Regions from separate parts of the Homo sapiens genome. Here region 2 is linked to region 1. A link means that fine-mapping ties the variant in region 1 to the expression of a gene that starts in the linked region. Tissue or cell type: whole blood. Region 1 holds a variant in brackets; the other region holds the start of a gene. All regions are shown on one strand. Distances are between the middles of the regions.

What was found. PIP is the estimated chance that this variant, and not a neighbour inherited with it, causes the effect.
Region 2: it holds the start of NXF3, and the variant in region 1 is fine-mapped to the expression of NXF3 in whole blood (TOPMed, PIP above 0.99).

Annotation. Positions count from the first base shown.
Region 1 is chrX:102,745,431-102,748,115 of GRCh38, forward strand. The region is part of intron 8 of ARMCX5-GPRASP2 (ARMCX5-GPRASP2 readthrough); the gene reads left to right. GPRASP3 (G protein-coupled receptor associated sorting protein family member 3) reads left to right here. Exons shown (of 4, transcript NM_001142524.2): 3 at 2,387-2,481. Among named protein-coding and RNA genes, the nearest start is that of LINC00630, 22 kb to the right of the region's middle. RefSeq lists a silencer at 988-1,037. The variant C/T (reference allele first, on the strand shown) is at 1,086.
Region 2 is chrX:103,091,845-103,094,529 of GRCh38, forward strand. NXF3 (nuclear RNA export factor 3) reads right to left here and starts at 1,299. Exons shown (of 20, transcript NM_022052.2): 1 at 1,152-1,299. The coding sequence starts at 1,179.

The sequences.
Region 1 (2,685 bases):
TTAAGAGCAGGTGTACCTTCCTCCCCTGCGTGGCTCCATGAAGCTGGGAAAGAAACGCACAAGAGGACCACCCTAGAGGCCCAGGCTTGTTTGGCCTGAAATCGCCTCACCCCTCCCAGACTGCACTGCTGACACCCCCTCTCCCATTAGCTTCCAGGAAGGAGAGTGAGAGGGCTGGGGAGAGGGAAGGGGCAGACACCCAGCAGTCCCTGGTTGGGGAGTTGGGGCGGGGGTGCAGACACACCAAGGGGCGGTTTGGTATCCATCCGCTGCTCCCTCCAGCGCGGCTCTTCCCAACCTCCTGATCCTGTCCCCTGCCTGGGTCCCCAGCCGCCCGCCCGTCCCTATATTATAGCAACGCCAGAAATGTGGTGGTGGTGGTCGCCACGTTAGGGTCCGCGGGGGTCCTCCTGAGGCAGCCTGGTGCCAACCCGCAGGCCCAGGCTGGGGCTCGTCATGGCCCCGCCCACCTCTGGGTCGGAACTAAGGTGGGCCTGAGAGGGGGGCGTCGAGCACTTTCGCGCCGTATCCCTCCGCCCCCCTTCCCGACACCCTCGCGGAGAGAGCGGTTCTTGCAGCATCCTGCGCAGCCCCTGCCCAGTTTGGTGCAGAGGCGTGGGGGGCGGGACGCGTCTTTGCCATTCTGATAGCGGGGAAAGCGGTGAGAATCGAAGTGAGGAGCCGCCAGAGGAGAGCTGAGGAGAGGAGGGGGAGGTCGACGACCTGGGCCCTGGGCCTCTGAAGGCAAGTGGGGGTGCGTGAGCTTGGGGTGGTCCGCCAGGGTGGACCGGCTGGCAGCCTGCCCCGCCGACCCTGACATCCTGGCAAGGAGGAGACGATCCGGTCGGAGCCGGTCGCCGGAGAGAGGTGCGCAGTGCTCGAGACCCCTGGCGATGGGGAGGCGGTGACCGGTGCAGGCCGAGCCAGGCCAAGGGCTGAGGGGCTGGCTTGAGAGGCACCGTCAGATCGTCTGGAGGAGAACCGCGCTGACCGCCTCCAAGCCAGCTTTGCAGGCGCCGGCGCCCCGCCCTCGACGGTGTCTGTGCCCGGAAAGGGCTGTGGGGGAGCTCCTGCGGGAGAAATGG[C/T]GGAGCGGGAGCCATTGTGGGGGGCTCCCGGGAAGGCCGGGGGGAGCCGGCGTCCCAGCTCTGTGCCCAGCCCACGAGAGGTGGGCCGCGTTCGCTACTCGGGGCCCTGATTCCGGAAAGGGGCCTGTGGGACCCCGTGTCTTGGGTGCTGTCCCTTCCCACAGGCTCCAGGTGGTTGTTAAAGTCTCCTGTCTGCGTGATAGGTCTGTTGGGTTCTCCAAAAGTGGAACTTTGAGTGGGTGAATTATGAAGACACTAAAATGAAATGTTTAACCGCCTTTTATAATACCGCACTGTTTTATTGCCTTACATATTTAGATCCCCACATCCAGTTTTGTGCAAGCAAATAGGGTGTGGACTTAGTCGAATTTCACAACAGTGGTCCATGTAAATAACAGGGTAGTATTTTTCCACCTTTCTTGTTCAGGATCTGTTTTCTCAACATGCTGATCCACTTTAAGTAATGTAATGATGTGTGAGAATGTGGGTTCCGAGTAGAGGGGTAATCTTTTTGAAGGGTCAATTTAGAACATTTGAAGTCAATCTGCTTCTTCAGTTTATGGTTCTGGAAACCAAAACTCCATCTCCAGCCACTCCTCACAGACCCTCTCATTTTGGTGCAGAAATAGTCCCACAGAAGAATTCATGGCATTTCTGATGGTGGATATCTGAGGAGCTATGAGAGTTGGGAGACTTTATTTACTTAGTTTCTGATTCTCAAAAAGGAGGTGTTAGAATCCGAATTCTGGGAATCTGTCCATTAACCTGCTATTTTTCTACCATTGTTAACATAGTCTCTTGGGGTTATTTTTTGCTAGTTGCTCCGCCTTCTTTTTGTAGGGCGTGACTCTTCTTTGGTGGGAAGGATAGCATCTCCTGAGAACTCCTGCTGTATAAGCAGGCTGACATAGGTGGTGAATAAAGTAGGATCTAGGTATGCATGGGGAAGGGGAAGGACATGCACAGATGGTATTAAAATAACAGTCTCCATTATGTTCCCTGCCTGCCTTGTAAGTACAATTGCCTATGTTCCACTACCTATTTCTGCACCTCATTTTTTTTGGTTCAGGAAAGGAGCTGTAACTTCTATTGGGAAAATGACTGACTTCAAAGTTGGCAGGAGGTGTAATCAGGCTGCAGGTCTTGGGGTGATTAGGGAATCATTGAGGAAGAGCAGACAGGTGGGAGACATTTAACATAGCCTTGAATATTCAAAAGCATATGTTATAATCCTTGTTATAGGCATTAGATCATCTTAGTCTCTTCTGTTTTCTTTCCTCTGCCTTCCTTTCTATCCTTAGGTCTGTTTCTTTCTAGGTTCCTGTAGAGATCTGTATGTAGCTGTTCACTTGGAAGTTAATTAAGAAAGAACAAAAACTATTCATTTGGATTCAAGGTAGGTTTATGTGTGAGCACCCCCGTTGATTGGGGTTATGGAAAGGCTGTTGCCAAGTGGGTTAGACCAGATCATATCTTGGTGCCACTGTCTTCCATCTTTCTAGTCACCTCTGACCTCACATTTGTGTACAAGTGATGGGGTGGGGTGAGCCAGGATTATGCCTATGAGGTAATTGGTAGATATTGGGGCAGGAAATGGGAA
Region 2 (2,685 bases), 350 kb after region 1:
CATGGTGGCGGATGCCTGTAGTCCCAGCTACTCGGGAGGCTGAGGCAGAAGAATGGCGTGAACCCGGGAGGCAGAGCTCGCAGTGAGCCGAGATTGTGCCACTGCACTCCAGCCTGGGCGACACAGCAAGACTCCATCACAAAAAAAAAAAAAAAAAAAAAGAAGAAGATTAAACATTAGATATTAGATGGTCTGTTGCATGCTAGAACTGTTAGTATTGTTGGATCAATTACTTTGGTTTTATGAAAAAATTAATGATAAATATCTTTAAAGAGAACTAGAAGAATTTTTTGTTTGATTCTAGGCTGTAACATGATTATTTACGGACATAGTTTGATTGGCTGGCTAACTTAGTAGAATTAATTGGCTGGCTAACTTAGTAGAATTATTGTTTTTTTTTGTACTGCAATAGGGCTTATAATTGTAAGATAAAAATGTGTGTGTGCTTAAGGGAAGTAAGTGCTGGTTAAAATTATTGAAAAAATTTCAGAATACTTTAAAAATAAAGTTTCAAGTTATACAAAAAAAAAGAAATTCTAAATTTGTATGCATGTCTTAACATGGACCAATCTATGTTTAGATACAAAGCAAAAACTGATCTAAGTAAATAGAGAAATAGTTAAAACCACTGTGATGTGGGAATTTAACACACCTCTCTGAGTAACAGATAAAACTAGCAGACAAAAATTCAGCTACATATAGAAGATTTAAATGGCATGAGTAATAAGTTTGCTTAAATGACATAGAACACTGCACAGAAAACCTTCACATGGAACATTCCAGAATAAGTCATATGCTGGGCCATAAGGCTAGCCTTGATAAATTTCTGGGGCTGGGGTGGGAGGTAATACAATCTACCTTGAATGGTTAGTGTGAAGATTAAAGATGTATTCCCTGCCCCACTACCACCTCTAGTGTACATCCAAGGAATGTTAATTTTTACCAACCCCTGCCTCAGGTGACCCTCCTCATACCTCAAACCCTGGCCCTGAGAAGGCCACAAGACTCAGGCCTGGGCCCTTGCCACTGCCCACCCCCATCTAAAGGGAGATTGGCTGGGTGTTATGTGGGTTAGGGTAAGGTGGGGAAGGGGGCTCAGTCCCTTTTGCCCTGTGAGACCTGAGACTCCAGCCTCATGCTGGCCAACTCACCCGTAGTGTGTCCTGAAGGCAGTGACATTTTACCAATGTCCTTATAGGGCTCTCTTGAGGAGAATCTGTGTGGCCTGGGGACGGGAGTTTGGAGAAGATTGAGGAGGGCTGCTGACGAAGGCGAGAGCAAGCCTCAAGCCTTGCTTACAGGAAGTTCCTTCCCCAAGCATAGAGAGGAGTGTCCTAGGAGTCACAGAATTAACTTCCTGTTCTTACCACTCCCCAAAGTTTGCTGCCAGCCTAACACCCAGGGAGATGTTTCTAATGTAGCCACTCCTGCAAAGGTGGTTAGCAACAATCACAATCATGAGGCCTAGGACCCAGATACTTATTGAAACAAACACGGAAAACTCAGCTTGCTGGTCATCTCCAGTGCATTACATTGTATTCATTTACTCTGCAGACTCAGAGACTCAGAGACTCAGAGTGCCTATGGTAGCTCAAGCTCTGTACTTGCTACATTACTTTTTTCTCCATGTATTCCTCACAAGGGGACTCTCAACTCAGAATCACCAGCTTCCTGAAGGTGCTGAGGCTTAATGAGGTATAGGACCTTGTCTGGAATGATTCAGATGTGACCTGGAGAAACAAAGTGGAAATGAGAACCATGGAATAGTGGGTGACCCCTCTATGCACAGCTTTTCTAAACTCTTATAATATTTGGGGTTTACTTAAGTTAGGGCAAAGTAAGACAATGTTCTGCAAATACTCGTGTGACTGGAATTAACTACAGCCCATCCTAGAGAGAGAATACAAAAAACAGACCAGGAAAATATAAAGTAAAAGTTTAGTGTGTCACTGTAATGAAAGTAGAAAAGAATCAAGTATTGTCTTAAAGACAAAATAAAGTATAGTCAATGTAGATGGATACTCCTAATGATTAGAGCCAGAAATGTAGCTCTTAAAGTCTCAGGCCAGAGAGAGGGAATAAACTAGTGAGAGGTGACAGCTTGCTGGCAGCTCTCACAGCCCTCGCTCGCTCTCGGCACCTCCTCTGCCTGGGCTCCCACTTTGGCGGCACTTGAGGAGCCCTTCAGCCCGCCACTGCACTGTGGGAGCCCCTTCCTGGGCTGGCCGAGGCCAGAGCTGGCTCCCTCAGCTTGCGGGGAGGTGTAGAGGGAGAAGCGCTAGCGGTAACCGGGGCTGCGCGTGGCGCTTGCGGGCCAGCTGGAGTTCTGGGTGGGCGTGGGCTCGGTGGGCCCCACACTCGTAGCAGCCGGCCAGCGCTGCTGCCCTGGGCAATGAGGGGCTTAGCACCTGGGCCAGCAGCTGCTATGCTCAATTTCTCTCCAGGCCTTAGCTGCCTTCCCGCGGGGCAGGGCTCGGGACCTGCAGCCCGCCATGCCTGAGCCTCACCCCCACCCCCGCCTCCGTGGGCTCCTGTGCCGCCCAAGCCTCCCCAACGAGCGCCGCCCCCTGCTGCACGGCGCCCATCTATGAAGGTGGAGCTCTCGTGGCCTAATTACTTCCCTAAAGCCCTACCTCTTAATACTGTTGCACTGGAGATTAAGTTTCAATGTGAATTTTGGAGGAA